Regions from separate parts of the Homo sapiens genome. Here region 2 is linked to region 1. A link means that fine-mapping ties the variant in region 1 to the expression of a gene that starts in the linked region. Tissue or cell type: monocytes. Region 1 holds a variant in brackets; the other region holds the start of a gene. All regions are shown on one strand. Distances are between the middles of the regions.

Evidence for each region. PIP is the estimated chance that this variant, and not a neighbour inherited with it, causes the effect.
Region 2: DNASE1 starts here. The variant in region 1 is fine-mapped to the expression of DNASE1 in monocytes (Quach 2016, PIP 0.95).

Annotation. Positions count from the first base shown.
Region 1 is chr16:3,868,428-3,876,530 of GRCh38, reverse strand. All of the region lies in intron 1 of CREBBP (CREB binding lysine acetyltransferase), which reads left to right. Among named protein-coding and RNA genes, the nearest start is that of CREBBP, 8.2 kb to the left of the region's middle. RefSeq lists silencers at 3,829-4,123, 5,029-5,323 and an enhancer at 3,957-4,492. The variant T/C (reference allele first, on the strand shown) is at 3,575.
Region 2 is chr16:3,650,053-3,658,152 of GRCh38, reverse strand. DNASE1 (deoxyribonuclease 1) reads right to left here and starts at 3,462. Exons shown (of 9, transcript NM_005223.4): 1 at 3,109-3,462; 2 at 2,633-2,780; 3 at 2,216-2,304; 4 at 1,968-2,051; 5 at 1,400-1,515; 6 at 1,042-1,154; 7 at 812-966; 8 at 337-433; 9 at 58-247. The coding sequence starts at 2,779. The coding sequence ends at 200. TRAP1 (TNF receptor associated protein 1) reads left to right here. Exons shown (of 18, transcript NM_016292.3): 18 at 1-116. The coding sequence ends at 24. It overlaps LOC124903631 (a long non-coding RNA gene), which reads left to right and starts at 386. Exons shown (of 2, transcript XR_007064954.1): 1 at 386-456; 2 at 631-7,517. RefSeq lists enhancers at 2,230-2,757, 2,758-3,285.

The DNA.
Region 1 (8,103 bases):
TAAAATAGCATATTGTGTCTTTCAACATCAGAGATTCATGATTTAACAGTATAAGACAAATATCCAGGCAAGCAGTAGACTTTTGTTTTTTGTTTTCTGGGTTGTTTTTTTTTTTTTTTTTTTTTTTTTTTGGTCAGCTTTATTGCAAAATTTGCACACAACAGACTGTTTATAAAGTTTTTTGAAATTGCAGGCCAGGGTGGTGGCTCATGCCTATAATCCCAGTGCTTAGGGAGACTGAGACAGGAGGATTGCTTGAGGCCAGCAGTTGGAGACCAGCCTGGACAACATAGTGAGACCCCATCTAAACAAAAAATTTTTTTAATTAGTTGGGTGTAATAGTACAATCCTGTAATCCCAGCTATTCAGGAGGCTGTGGCAGGAGGATCGCTTGAGCCCAGGAGGTCGAGGCTGCAGTGAGCTGTGATCATGCCACTGCACTCTGGCCTGGGTGACAGAGTGAGACCCTGTCTCTGGGGGAAAAAGGAAAAGAAAAACTACATTCTGAAGATTGAACATAGCTGTGTTTCATCCTGTGCTGTATAAGTGGCTCTAAGCAGTTGTGATTACATTTTATGACGTGAATCCTTTTAAATGCAATAGGGAAGCTTATTTAAAGAAAGCTGGTGGCGAATATGGTTGTCAACCAAATGGTCTGTTATGTATGTCTGGTACTTTATGTATCAGAGTGCTTTTCTCCACGTCACCTCAGTTTGATCCTTACAGCGTCCTGTGAGGAAGGGAAGATGCTGTTACTGCTATTTTCTAGGTGAGGAACTGGACTTGAGAGGTGATACAGGGTCAAAACCAGATCCAAACTAGATTGTTAAAGTCCGTAGCTCTATATATTTATTTTCTAAGTCTCTATCTGTAAACAATGCATTTACTTGAATCGACCCAGGAACCTGCCAAGCTTAGTGAGTTTCAGTAGCGGCCTTCCCGCACATGAATGAGATCACTAAGGGGGAGGTTTGTAACCACCTGTGGTGGGGGCAGCCAGGAGTGTATTCTTCCTCCTGGGTTAGGGCGTCCCCCTTTTCCCTCTGGTTCTGGTGTTATCCTCAGCGTGACGTGTGTGGGCTCGTGTTCCTGTTTACCTCAGGGAGAATGAGAAACGGTTATGTTACCCCATCAGTGAGTTCTGGCTAAGTAGGAATAAAAGTTGTCATAGAGACTTTTAGGACTAGGACATTTCATGACCGTGCTTCGTTTTTGAATAACTGAGAGGGGTGAGAGCGGTGGCCCCATTCAAAGGTCGTCAGGGATGAAGGTAGGCAAGGACAAGTCATGTGCAGGGCGCCTTAGAGGGCCTTCAGAAGATGGAAAGTCGCTCCTGGCTGAACATTCAGATTTGATTCTGTAAACAGAATTGAACATAACTTACAAAGAGACTGAGTCCTGCAGTTGGAAGTTGATGCTTAGATTAGTCGCCTGTGTTTTCACAGCTTCTAAGTAGTGTGTTGTAATTGTGTGGCAAAGTATGTGATTACCTGGGGGGTCCATAATTGCTGACTTGTGTTTTTACTTGATGTATTTGAAAACAGTTAGGAAAATGATTTTGCCAAAGTGTGTCTTACCTTAGTTAAGATGAAATGTACCTTATTGTGAGTTTCTGAAGATTGCAAAAGCTTGTCAGTTTAGTTTTTGGGGTCCCATTAGTGAGGGCACCCCTCTTTACCTTACTCAAACCAGCTCTTCACATGTATTCCAAGAAACTAGAGGGCATGCTAAGAGGTATTTCTCAACAAATGGTTTGTGCTCAGATGCTGTTGCTTGTAGCTGAGGAATTTGACTGCAGACTTTCCCAGAGCCTTGGTGTCCTGATTGGGCACTGTGAGAGAGGGGCTACAGTTGGACCACTCTCAATCCTGTTTGACGCTAGAACTCTTTTTAGCCTATTATGGGTCCGCAGACTTCCTCTGCAAAGGGCCAGAGAGCACGCATTTGGCTTTCTGAGCCATATGGTCTCTTGTTGCAACTACTCAAGGCTGCCATTTCAGCAAGAAAGTAGCCATAGGCGAGTGGGCCTGGCTGTGTTCCAGTAAAACTCTAGTTGTAAAGACTGGCATCTGAGGACTTCGCCCATGGGCTGCAATTTGGTGACTGATATAACGTGGGACTTCATTCTCTGAGCACCCGTTGGGGAGCACTGGCCTACCACGGCTGCACAGACAGCTTTAAGGAAAACAGCAGCAGGGCAAGTTTTCTGAGCTGCATGATGTGGAGCCCGGGAGAGCCCAGGTGAGCAGCAGGCTAGCTTGGGTCTCCTGTCTTGGAGCACTTCAGAGCTTAGCAGGGCCCTCTCTCTCTGTCTTTTTTGTTCCTCTGTAACAGTTATATGGATGACTTGATTTAAAATCAGACGAATTTATCAGAAAGCCTGGTGACCGGTTGCATTTTTCTTTGTTCTTTTGCTTTTTGTTGACCCCAGTGGCCCACATGGCATTTCTCGTCCGTCTTTGTCATCTCAGGCTCTAGGCTTGCTCCCCTTCCTGTGACACCAGAAGGTGAGCGTCAGTAAGAACTCCAGAGCCTTTCCACGGCCCTCTTCCCAGCACTTCCCTCCCCAGGGGCAGTGCCTGACACATAGTAGGCCCTCAGGAAATATTTGAGGGAATTAGTGAAAGAATTATATAGTATTTGTCCCTTAAAGTTCTTATCATTTTCTTGTTAAGGTTTTACTTTCAAGCAGATTGCCACCTATCTTCTAATTGGGTCTGTTATTTGCTTCCGAGTTCCGTACCCATGGGCTCCCACCCGGCCACCAAACCAGCTGGCCTTAGGAGTGCTGAGGCCAGAGCATGTTTGGGGCAAGTTACATCAGCTCTCTGAGCTCAGAGTTTCCTCATCTGTAACATGGAGATAATAACAATTCCCATCTCAGGGTGGTTATGAGGGTAGCCTGAGATGATGTGTGTCTGGCATATCCGCCCAATGGGAACTGACACTAGCGTTAACCAGGGACGTTGTCGTACCTTGTAAGTCCTAGGACTTACTGGGAGTGCTAGTCTGATTGGAGCAAGACCTGTTTCTCAGCAGTTCTGGAAAGGACAGAAGCCATGTGTGCTCGTATCCACAGAAACCAGTGTGCAGGCACGCGTGTGATAGTGTAGCACCTCAGCAGATACATAGCCGGGAATTCTGTCATCTATACCATTGACTCTGTCTCCATTTTTTATTGTATTTTTAAAAATAGGAACGTGATGGCCATGAAAGCTTAAAATTACGAAAACTTAAATGGTGTGTGTTCTGAATTATTTTTTCTTTTAAATCAAATCAGGATGTACACTGAAAATTATTGATAATTTTGAAGCATATTTCATGGACTGTTTAAGCAGCAGACAAGTATGTGATTCTGTTTGTTTACTGTGTATAATTTATCTTGAGGTACCTGTTAAGCATTAGCAGTGTACACAGGATTCTGATAGATGCCTGTGAGTACTTAGAACCATCTTGAGAAGATGAAACCTCGAGGCAAAACTTAAGGAAAGGGTACAGAAATGCAGTCAAGTGCAAAAACTCTGGAACCAGAAAGGGTGATCTGAATAAGGCTTCATTTACTCCCTCCCCTGTT[T/C]CCTGAGTGTCCCCGTGTGCAGAAGTCCAGGGCCGCATGCCCCAGTGGGAGGCAGGCCCTGGGATGGTTGAGGAGCCTTGGGCTCCTGTGACAGCTCTTCTGCTGAGCCAGCACAGAGCCAGGAGTTGGGGAAGCCTGCCTGTTTTCCATGCATTCCTGGTTGTTGGGAAAAGCACCCTGACCATGACAGTTTGTTTCCTGGGGTATCGTTGTAGGCCCATGGCTTGCTCACATCTGAGTCCTCTTCTGGTTGTCCCGTCTCTCCTAGGCTCTGAAGCTCCTGGCCGTGCCGTCTGCTTTTTAGCACATGCGCTCAGCGTTCCCTTTAGTCCTCTCTGAGGTCTTTTCCTTGCAGTGCATCCCTCCGGATACACTCCTTGCTTTAACTGGAAAAGGATGCTGCTCTTCTCAGTCAGGCTCAAACTTGGCTTTCGGCAAAATTCTCCTATTGCATGAGTCTTTGATGCAGAAGTGTAAGCCTTGGGAGCAGTGCCTGTGGGGGCTTTTGCCTGTTCTCCTTTCCCTGGGGCCGTGCTCTGCTGACAGGGGTGCTACAATAGGCCACGAGCAGAGTCCCCGGGGCGTCCTGGAGTGGTCAGGTCTTTGCCATTTGAGCTGTGACTTGAAGAGATTTGAGCAAGGGCACACAAATCAAATTGGGCAAGGCTGTGTGAAAGGCATGGAAGTAAACAAAAGTGGCCCCTCTCTTTTTAAAGTTTTTTTTATTAAGTTCCTAGACAATATAGGCGGTGACTGTGGCTGTATTTAAAATACTGCCTTTAGGGTGTTTTCTGGTTCTAAATTTAGGAAGCAAGGCTATTTTTGAGCTCTGTCTCTAAAAGTTGAATTCCTTTTAAAACTTACCCTTAAGAAAGATTTGGATATTATCCCGTGTGACATTTTCCCCGGTGTTTCATTTCCATTAATCAAAAGACTGTTTAGTTGAACCATTGCTAAGAATAGTAAAATCTAATGGGGAAAATAATTCTACATGATTAAATCTGACTTTACTTTCCCATTTCTAGTTGTACTGTCTGCTATTGTTTGAAAATGTCTTAATTTGCCTTTCTAATATGCCTGTACTATATTGTATACAGTAGGTATATTTTCCAGTTGCACCTAATTCAACCTTTCGAATTTGCATAATCTGTGGTAAGGAGAAAAAGTAGTTGTGTAGTGGAGTTGTACAATTCTGTTGTAAAGCAAATCTTTTTATAATTCACAAGCTGCTTCTCCTCCCCCTAGTTTGGATTTTTCTTATTAAAACTGCACCACCTAAACATGTTTTAACTTTATGGTTAAAATAACCAGTGAAATAGAAAAATAAGTCACTGTTCTGTATGATAACATGTAGAGAAGGCTTGTACAACATTTAAATAAGGAGATTTGGGTATTTGATTACAAACTGAATGAGGACATTCAGGAGCTATAGAAATTTATCAGGTAATTAGGGTTTGCTTAGACAATTATAGACTCTACGAGTTTGACCCAGTTGCTTTGGATTAAAATATTTTGAGTATTTGTCACCTGATTAAAAGTAGAACCTTCTAACTGTGAGTCACAGTTGAAGGAAATGTCAGCTTTTTATACGGGGAGGCGGTCAGTGTGGTGCTGAGGAGGGAGCCCTGGCTCCTGCTCAGAGTAGACTGTGAGTCCCAGCTCCCAGCTCGGCAGCGCTGTGACTTGGGCTGGTGACATCACATTTGAGTTTTGCAGGGTGGGGTGTGTGTGTGTGTGTGTGTGTGTGTGTGTGTGTGAGTGAGAGAGAGAGAGAGAGAGAGATCTCTAAAAGGGGCTTTTTACCCTGCAGTATTCCATTTGTTTCTTTTCTTTCTCTTCTCTCTTCTTTCTTTCTTTTTTCTTTCTTTCTTTCTCTTTTCCTTCCTTCCTTCCTTCTTTTTTTCTCTTTCTTTCTTTTCCTTCCTTCCCCTTCCCCTTCCCCTCCCCTTCTTTACATTACTTTTCTTCTTTCCAATGGGGTCTTGCTTGCCCAAGCTGGTCTTGAACTCCCATCCTTCAGCAATCCTGCCTCGGCCTCCTGAGTAGCTGGAATTACAGGTGTGAGATGGAGCCACTGTGCCTGGCTCTACTTCTGCTTACTTTGATTATCTTGGTACATGGGGCTACTAGGGTGCCTGGCATATAGCAGGTTGAGGCAGCTGTTTTTATTGTTTAATTGTATGGGAAAATATTAGCCATCACCTACTTCTTGGGCCAGTGAGGACTAAGATGATGTAGCCTGACCCGGAATCAGGAGGCTTCTCACTGAATACATGGGAAGCTTCTGCCCCTGCCTGTTTGGCTTTCAGTGCCAGCTCTAGTGCAGTTTGGGAACCAGTTTGTAAGAAAACGAACTAAGATTCGAGAATCTTACAAAATGGGTAATCGTTTGACTCATTTTACTCCGTCTGTGTTTGCAGTTCAACTGTTTTTTATTGGAAAATTGAACTCTTAATTAAATGGAACTCTGTTTCTAGTTATTGCTTCAGAACAAGGGCTTGATTTAGATTAGGACTTAGAGAAAAGGGAAAAGTAAATGCAGAGAAATTATAAATATAGTATTTTATTGAAAACAGAGTTGGGAAGAAAATGGCCTTGGGATCACTGTCCAGTTTAGTCAGGTTGGTTGAAAGGAATACCAGTGAAACTCAATTGCCTCTCGGGCTCAGCTACACAGATCTTGAAAGGAACAGATTCAGCTCTGTGCTGTACTGTGTGACTTTTCTCCTCCTGCAGATTCTATAGTAGGAAATTCTTTTAATGGAGATTACTGTTTTTCTGTTCTCCTAGATTTGGTGTGATTTTTTTTTTTTATAAGTAAAAGTTACCCCGTGGTGGACAAAATTTTTCCCCGATTTGTGGATATCTTTACTTAAATCTGATTTACATATTCAGAACGTCACCTTTATTGAAAATAACAAAAAGACATAACATATTGATAGGTTTTCTGTGTCATTGTGGTTGTTCCTCTACTACTGTGGGAATCGGTTTTTGTTTGAAGAGCACACCTGCCCGTAGTTGAACTTCTGTTGAGAAGTCTCTGAGGGAATCATTTGAATGATGGCAAGAGAATCAAGTGTTTTGCTTTCACTGATGGCTTTCTCAGTCACTGAAACTTTAGGGGAGAACGGATTCTTTCCCAGGAGGAAGAGGGTGAATTGAGATGTTTCCTTGTTTGGGGATGCCTGTGTTCTCGGGATGCCCTCCAAGCCAGCGCTGTCCAGTGGTCGTTATTGGGAGGGCGGCTCTACGCTGTGTCTATATGACACAGTACTGGAACCACGAGCCACGTGTGGCTGTTGAGTACTTGAATTGTGATTAGTGTGACTTAGGAACTAAATTTTAAATGTTACCTGGTTTGAGTAAATGAAGATAGCCACATGTAGTTAGTCACTACGGTATTGGACAGCACAACTGTAAGTACATTTACTTATCCTCTTTGTCTAGAGTTTTCTTTAAGATACGTATCACCTAGATATTTATGACAAAGTTCCTTTAAAACGATCATCTTTTAAAGATGCAAGACTCCAAATTAAAAATGATGAAAGACTCCTTCAAAAATATTCACGGCTTAGGTCACACTGTTCAGGATTATTCACTAATTTAGAAAATATTTGTTATGCTGTGATGTAGGCCCTGGCGATCCAGTGGGGATGTGACAGGCCCCATCTCTGCCCTCATGGGTGGTGATGGATACTGGACAGGTAACTGCAGTCAGGTGTGACCTTGGAGGGGACATACTGTGCATTGACTGAGGCACCAGATGGGGACTGAGCCTGTTTTGAAGGGTATTGGAAGTCCCCGGGGGCTGTGACGTTAGCACTGACACCTGAGGGTGAATAGGAGATGGCAGATAGTACTGTTCCAGGCAGAGGGAACAGCACTCATAGCAGGGTGGAGGTCTGGCTCTTGTGACAGTTTTTGGGTTATGTTCACTGGGCTACCAGAATTTAGGAGGCCTCATGGTTTTGCTTCTGAGATGGTGGAGACTAAAGGTGTGGTTCTGCCCTGCGGGGGTTGGTCGGCCCGGGATCCAGTCTTGACTCCTACCACTTCATTCTTTTATTCAGCAAATATTTAAGCACATTTTACGTGTGGGGCACCCTGCTGGGCTGTGGTGATGACAGTAGTGGCAGAAGCTGCTTCTGTCCTCATGGAACTCTGAGTTGTGTGGTGTGGTGGGTGAGCAGTCCCGTGGTGCCCACCGTGGCCTATAGCATTTCACACTCAGCTCGATGTCTGACTGGAAGGAAGTGGATGCCTCAGGCTGGGTGGTCAGGGAGGCTTGTTGGAGGAAGGACACCAGAGCTCATTGAGGGTGAGTAGAGCATCAGCTTGGGCATCTGAAGGCGAGATAACATCACCAAGGGCCTTGAATGTCAGACCTAGGAGTCCAGGTTATTATTTTTTTTTAGGGCTTATAAAACAAAATTAAGCTTTAAAAAACCCGTGTCCAGAGTGATTGGGGGAGCTCCTGTGATTTATTTTCCAGAAGTCTAGATTAGCTTTTTCAAGGTGTGTTTTTTCAT
Region 2 (8,100 bases), 220 kb after region 1:
GTCAAGGCCCTGGAGCGACACTGACAGCCAGGGGGCCAGAAGGACTGACACCACAGATGACAGCCCCACCTCCTTGAGCTTTATTTACCTAAATTTAAAGGTATTTCTTAACCCGAGTGTGTGTTGGGCTTTTTTTCTGGGTCCTGTGGCAGGATGGGTCCTCTCTTCCTGCAGTTCAACTGGTGTGGGGAGGGGCTGCTCACTTCAGCATCACCTCCACTGGATAGTGGTCACTGATGGCTTGGGCCTGCAGGCAAGTGGGCACAGGGTCTGGGCTGAGCCTACCTGAGCTCCTGTGTCCCATCCTCATGTGGCTGTGCAAGGGAGGACACATACCAGTTGGTCACTCAGGCCATAGGCAGCCTGGAAGTTAAAGGGAAGAGCCGAGTCGGGAACAACGGCGCCTCGGAGCAGCATCCCTGCAACCACGATCCTGATGGGTGTTGGGAAGAGAAAGTAGGTTCCCCTTTCACACATGGGCCTGGCTCAGCACCCGCAGGAACTAAACTAAGAGCCCTGGGACCTGCCAGTGCAGGTCTGTGGGTGCCCAAAACTGCACACCCTGGTCTGTGCCCCTCAATGTGGAAACCACATGACAGCCTAGGTGTCTGCCTCTCCTCTTATCCCCAGATGTGCTTTTCCGAAAAAACCTAAAAATCGTGGCTCTTGTTATTCTGTTCCCTGTAGTGGATCAACTGAAGCTCAGTTGGGTGAGTGTTCAAAGGCTTTGAGGCTTCTGAAGCCCGACCTATGAGTCACGGCTGCCCTTGGAGGTGCCCTCAGTCTGCCCTAAGCGCGAGGCCCTGCTCACCTGTCATAGGCACAGTGCGTGGGTGTAGCTGTGGTGTCAGCGCTGTCGGGGATCAGCCACTGGAAGGTGGGGCTTGTCCACAGGCGGATGGATGACCACTGGGAGGGTCTCACATAGCTGCAGCCCGCATTGAAGTCGCCCATCAACATGACGTCCTACCAGGAAACGCTGCCTGTGGCCCTGGGACATGCGGAGGCCGCTGGTGCCCACTGCCCCTGGGAGGGCCTCACCTCCAAGCCCCATTTCTCTTGGACATCCAGGTAGACGTCATAGAGAGCGTCGATCTCGGCTACTGCGTCCCCCGGGGCCGCATGCAGGGGAACAATGGCAAACTCCCTGACCTCTGTGGAGACAGCCACGTCGTGTGAGGCACACTCCCTGGGGGCAGGTTCAGTCACCATGTCAGCTGGAACTATGTATCATGACAGTCCCCCCGGGGGGTGGATATTTTCCAAATGACTTGAATGGAAAACCCAAGCCCCAGGGACTGGGAGGGCAGTGTGTGACACAGGCATTCCAGGTTCCCTAGGAGGGGGTGGAGGCCATAAGCGCCAAGCCGAGCCCCACCCTGGCCCAGGCAGCACCCACCTGTGAACCGGGAGAAGAACCTGACAATGGCTGGCTCTCGGTTGAAGGTGTCGTTCCCGCAGGGCTCGCAGCCATCATCGTAGTAGTAGCTGTCCACCGCAGACACCTGGTCAGGCCTGCGGGAAGGCCGGGCAGGAGGAGGTGACCCCAGGCTGGAAGCTGCCCCACTCCTGCTTCCCAGGAGGCAGGCGTCGCGTCCCAGGCGACAGGAGGGCGGGGGAGCCAGGCACCTGCTCAACCCATTGGTCCGGGACCCAGGCGACAGGAGGGCGGGGGAGCCAGGCACCTGCTCAACCCATTGGTCCGGGACCCAGGCGACAGGAGGGCGGGGGAGCCAGGCACCTGCTCAACCCATTGGTCCGGGACCCAGGCGACAGGAGGGCGGGGGAGCCAGGCACCTGCTCAACCCATTGGTCCGGGACCTTGGGGTGTTTTCACTCCACCCTGGACCCTGCTCTGAAGCCTCAGGTTCTTGCCATAGGACAAACTAATAGGACAAACTACTTCCCTGCTCTGTTGGGGCCCTCCCAGGTGAGGGAGGGGCTTCCTGGCTTTCTAGACCACCCACCTGTACACGAACAGGTAGCGCTCCTTATAGCTGTTCCGTCCCAGTGGCTCACTGACCACGTAGTGATAGGTGTCTGGTGCATCCCTGGATTGAAGAAACAAAAGGTCCCAGTGGCGGGGGCCATAGGGGACCCCTCTGGCTGCCGATAGCGAGGCTGTGCCCAGGTCCCCACCCTTGGGGCCCAAGTGAAGTGAGGCTGTGCCGTGGACGAGATGTCACCTTCCTATGACCCTGCCACTGTCACCCACTGATTGAGGTTGTCCAGCAGCTTCCCCACGGCAGTCAGGTGGCTGTCTCTGACCTCCTGGACCAGGGCGATGTCATAGCGGCTCAGGATCTGGGGGCAGGGCCACAGTGGTGCTGAGCAGGGCTGGTGCCACCCAGGGACCCTACAGCGCCACAAAGGGAGCCACAGCTGATGCTCGTGGCATTGCTCGGTTTAACCGCAGCCTCATGTTTCTGCCTGGGCTCCTGCTGCCAGCCAGGGACAGCACAGCAGGGATGAGGACCTTGGTCCACAGCCAAGAGCCTGTTCCACCGTGCTGGGAGCAGTGGTGCTCAGTACCCCACACCCGACACCCTGTGGCTCCATAGGGCTGGCCCTGCCCACCAGCCCTAGACTCCAGAGCTCCTCTGCTTTTGGGGGGAGGCTGCCCTGGCCTCACCTGCACAATGTAGCTGACGAGGGTGGCATTGGACATCTTGGTCTCCCCAAATGTCTGGATGTTGAAGGCTGCGATCTTCAGGGACACGGCCCCCTGCAGTAGGGCCGCCAGTGCCAGCAGCGCCCCCAGCAGCTTCATGCCCCTCATCCTGGGAGAGCACAGGGCACAGAGACATAACAGAAGTGAGACGTCATCCCTGCCACAGCACTCCAGCCTTCTGGAGCCCAGCTGGCAGGGGCTGGTGGAGCTCAAGGTCAGGGGGACGCAGGCGGGGGAAACCCTTTCCTACAACGTCCAGAAAGCCAAACAGCTGGCACCACGTAGAGGACCCCGAGTCACTCCTCCATCCACCAGAAAACCCGCCCGGGAGGGACGCTGGAGCCTCCGCCTCACTCGCTGCTGGAGGATGAGACTCTAAGCCTCCCTCCCTGCTCCAAACCGGCCAGTCACCCAGAGGCACTCCACCTGGTGCTCACCTGAGATGATGGTGATGTCCTCAGAGATGACGAGAATGCTGTCAAGAATCTGGAATATCCTTTGATGACAATTTTCTCCTTTTGCTGCTTAAAGAAAAAAAAGTAGTCTATGAAGAAAGGTCTCTGAAGAAGCACTTCAAGGCCCTGGCAGTGCTGCTGGGCTCCGGATCCTGCACAGGCAGTGCGTGTCTGGGAGTTTTAAAAGTTCAGGCAGCTGTGACCTTCCCTGGGGCAAATGTGAGCCGTCACCTGAGAGTGCAGAAAACAATGGCTCTGTGTGGCTTTCCGCATAGGTGGGTTGCTAGCACGTGTTTCTTTCTGTAAGCACAGGTTTCTTGCTGCTGTAAAAACTGCACCTGATAATCACGTTTGCACTTAGTTTTAAAATGTCTGATAACAAGGCCAAAGGTTCCTATCCCGTGTCCCTTGCACGTGTGGTGGCCCCCATCTTCCAGGATAGGGCAGGGATGGGCCAGGTATGTGCGGGAGGGTGGGGCTGGGCTCCAGTCTCCCTGTCTCTTGTCTGGGGGCCCCAAGGTCACTTTGGACAAAGAGGCCAAAGCCACATCCAAAGTTGCAAATGGAGCCCCCTGGTGGCTGACAGCCATGACTGCTCTGTGGCCCAGGACACGCCTGCCTTCCTGATTCATCGCCATCAGGTGCAGGCAACTCTGCAGGAGGCTGGGGAGCTCGGAACAAGCAGTGGTGGGGGCCTGCAGCACCAGCGCCGTGGGGCCAGGACAGGTGGGGCCTGCAAAGCCCACCCCAATTGCCAGCCAAGCAGTGGGGAGCCTTCTTGAGGTAGACAATAGGCTGTGTGTTTAGGCCCAGGGGATCCCGAGTGACCAGGTCACAAGGGCAGGGCAGCAGCTAAAGGCCAGGCCTCAGGTCCAGTAATTTCTTGGTTCTTTTGTTTTGGGTTTTTATTGTTTTTGAGACAGGGTCTCACACTGTGTTGCCAAGGCTGGAGTGCAGTGGCACAATCATGGCTCATTATAGCCTCAACCGCCAGGGCTCAGATAATCCTCCCTCCTCAGCCTCCTGAGTAGCTAAGACTATGGGTACGGCACCATGCCTGGCTAATTTTTAAATTTTTTTGGTAGAGATGGGGTCTTGCTCTTTTGTCCAGACTGGTCTTGAACTCCTGGCTTCAGGCAATCCTCCGGCGTAGCCAGGACCACAGGTGCATGCTACCATGCTCAGTTTTTTTTTTTTTTTTTTTTTTTTTTTTTTTTTTTGAGGCGGAATCTTGCTCTGCTGCCCAGCCTGGAGTGCAGTAATACTATCTCGGCTCACTGCAACCTCTGCTTCCTGGGTTCAAGCAATTCTTCTGCCTCAGCCTCCCGAGTAGCTGGGATTACAGGCACGCACCACCACACCCGGCTAATTTTTGTATTTTTAGTAGAGACAGGGTTTCACCATGTTGGTCACACTGGTCTCAAACTCGTGACCTTGTGATCCGCCTGCCTCGGCCTCCCAAAGTGCTGGGATTACAGGCGTGAGCCATCGCACCCAGCCTATTTTTTAAGTTTCTCACAGACACAAGGTCTCCAAGTCCTGAGCCCAAGCAATCTTCCCGCAAATGCTGGGATTACAAGTGTGAGCCACCGCACCCCGCCACTCATTTCTTGGAATCTTTGACTTTCCATTCGTATTCATTTCCTGAGACTGGTGAAACTACCACAAGTTTGGTTGCTTAAAATAACAGAAATGGATCCTCTCAAAATTCCGGAGACTGGACGTCTGAAGTCAGGGAGTCAGTAGGACCTTGCGCCTCCTGGAGGCTCCGGGCGGTTGGGGGATGCTCCTTGCCCTCCAGTTTCTGCAGGCTGCCAGCAATCCTTGGCTTTCCTTAGTTGTGGCTGCATCACCCCAGTCTCTGCCTCTTCTTCTTAAGATCTGTGCACCTGCATTTGGGGTCCTCCCAGAGAGCAGGGAGGATGTCCTTATCTCAACAGCCTTTACTCACATCTGCAAGTCCTTTTTTGCTACAAAAATCAACATTCAGAGGTTCCAGGGCTAGGGCACAGCTATCTTTTGAGCCACCCCTGGGTCTTGCCCACTTGGAAGGGGCTGTGCTGGCCCTCCAAGGACAGCCCTGCACGTAGCATCTGTGGTCCCCCTGGGGGAGGAGGGCCTGGAAGGCTTGGCAGAAGTCCAGGCGGGATTCAGGTATGAGAACTGCAGGAAATGAATACAAATGGGGTCTGCAGGAGGCCTCAACGGCAAGAGTCAGCAGGGGCCAAGGTCGAAAGTCAGGAAAGTGCTCGGTCTGGCCAGCTGGCCATGAAGCAGAAGGCAGGCCCAGTGGGGACTAGAAACAGGAAGGTAAACCACCCTCCACAAGACTGGCACCCCATTCCATAAAGACACGCCAACAGACGCCTCTGGCTGGCAGCACTGGTGCACTCATCTGTCCCTCCTATTGAGACGGCGTCTACCAGATGGAAACACCACCACTCCTCAGGCTGCCAGAGGCCCCATTGCAGGCTTTTCCAAAGGTTTCAGCAATGGTTCTTCCCTGTTTTTAATCTCTAAGTCTAGGACAGCCTCCAGCACGTCAAAACCCAGCCCCCAAGCAAGGCCACCGGAGTATTCGGTGTAGGGACTAGTCCTCTGCCTTTGGTGTTTGCCTTTCCTGGACACACATCTGACAGCGACCCATCACGGGGAAGGGAGTAAAGCTAGAGGGCGGCCACTGTCCTCCACCAAGAAACTGCCTGGTGCAGCTTCCGGCGGGGCACAGGGACACCAATTATAGCTCACAGAGCAAGTGCCCAACCCCCTACGTGTGCTCAGCACGTGGGACGAGGGTTCCCCTCTGGTCTGTCATCCCCTCCTGGCTCTTGACCAAATGCTGCCCCATCTGCTTTCAGGAACTCCCAGGCATAGTGCCCCTGCTTCCTCTACCTGCCAGAAGGAAGGCTGGAACTTGGGCCTCGCTTGTACAAATGGCGAGTGCTGCCTGCTGTGTGGCTGCCCTCAGGACGGGCTTTGGTGAGGGCAGCACAGCCCTGGAGGAGCCTGGTCTGACATGGGGCCCGTCTGGGATCACTGTTGGGCCTTCAACCGTCTGGAGCCTCTATGTCTTCCTCTGATAGATTCCCAGAACAATCATTTCACCTTCTAAGAAGCCATCCTGCCCCTGCAGCCTGTGGCTTGTGGAGTCTCCAGCACTCTCACTTCTCCCTCGTGGATCTCTTTTCTGTCTGTGTCAGTCAATGCTGCCATGTAACAGCCACCTGCAAACTCAGTGTATACACATGCATTTCTCTCACACTGCCAGGTCTGCTGGGGTGGCTCTGCTGCCTGGGCCTCGTCCTGGGGCTGGGCTGGAGAGACTGCAGCTCCCTGGGCACCCTCTTCCCACAGTGTGGAAGGTGGAGGCTCCCAGGGCACAAGCAGAACACGTGCCGCCCTAAGGCCAAGGCGGAGCTGGCTGCTGTCGCTTCTGCCCACATTCCATGGGTGCTGTCGAGCTGTAGGTCCAAGCCCCACATCAGGGGAGTGAGTGGGGTACAATCCTCCCATGCTGGGCCCCACTCTGGAGATAGGCCTGGGGAATGCCCAAGAAGGAAGCCCAGCCCTTCTGGGATTTTCACATCCACAGAGAATGGGTGCTGGCAGCCAACGGCAACGAGGAGAAAAGCTGACCGCCTTCTCAGATCAGGATGAGGTGTTTTTACACCAACCCCGAGGATCTGCAGCCTTCTCAGGTTAAATTAAACCTGTCACAGACACAGGAAGGGAAAAGAGCACATAACAACAATTATATTGACATCTAAGCCAGGTCACATGCTCTGATTTGGCTGAAATTACAGGATAAAGGAAAAATCCTATAGGCACCATGGCTGGAAACAAATGGCCTCAAAGGAACGCTGGTGGCCGTGGCTTTGTGCAACGACAGCCAGTGTTGTGTGACCCAGCGACGTGCAGGCCAGGGAGGGTACCCTTCTACTGATCAAGAGGGAAAGCGGGAAGGACGCACAGCTGTGGTTTCCAACCTGCACGGAGGCACCCCCATGAACTCACAGAGCACCATCAGATCCTTCTGAATTTTGAAGGAAGCAATGATACTCTGCTCTGCTCAAGGCCATTCATGGTCTCAACATTAACGTTACCTTGCTTTATAGGGTATCTTCCCTCTCTCTGCCAGGCTGGGTTGTGGCAGTCACTGAACAAGCAATTACTGTGAAGGTCGACGTGGAAAAATGAGGCAATGAGGGTGGCGGTGTTCTACCAGATTCCAAGTTGAAGAGGTGCTCGACAGGCACACACATCCCATGACTAAACAAATAACATGAACATTTCTCTTTATGTATTACTTTTCTAGACATCCACTATAAGTTGCCAGGACACAAATGCTTATTATTGGGGTTTACTTATTTAATAAATGGAACTGTGGGGGATTTCTTTTTCTTTTCTTTTTTTTTTTTTTTTTGAATGACCATATAATCTGGACTTACTAACTTTAGGTAACAGTAAGTTAAAAGATAGAATAAGGTTTCATATTACAGGAATTCAAAAATTGACCATATAATAAATGATGAAGAAAACTAACAATAAACAGGACAATGTTCAAATAGCTCATTGGGGCCAAAAGATCAGCGTATATCCTGCATCATCTTTCATGCAATGTCTCAGCTTTTTTTCCCTCAAACATAAAGGCAGATTAATACAAATTAGCCTTATTTAGAATATTCATTTACGTTTCCTTCTGAAATTGATACTTGAGTGGAAGATGTATTAATAACTCGTGGTTTCTACTGAAATTTAAGATTCCACCAGATGATGCTCAGATTTAGACGATGCTAGAGTAAGACACTACTGGGTGATGATTTCAAAGTATGAGCTGCAGGTAAAATCTAAAAGGACATACATAATAACAAATGTTTTCTAATTTAAAAGACATATAGTAAATATCCATGAATTAACTCACACAACCTACTTACAAACAAAACTAGAATAAACAAAACTTGTAGGAACCAACTC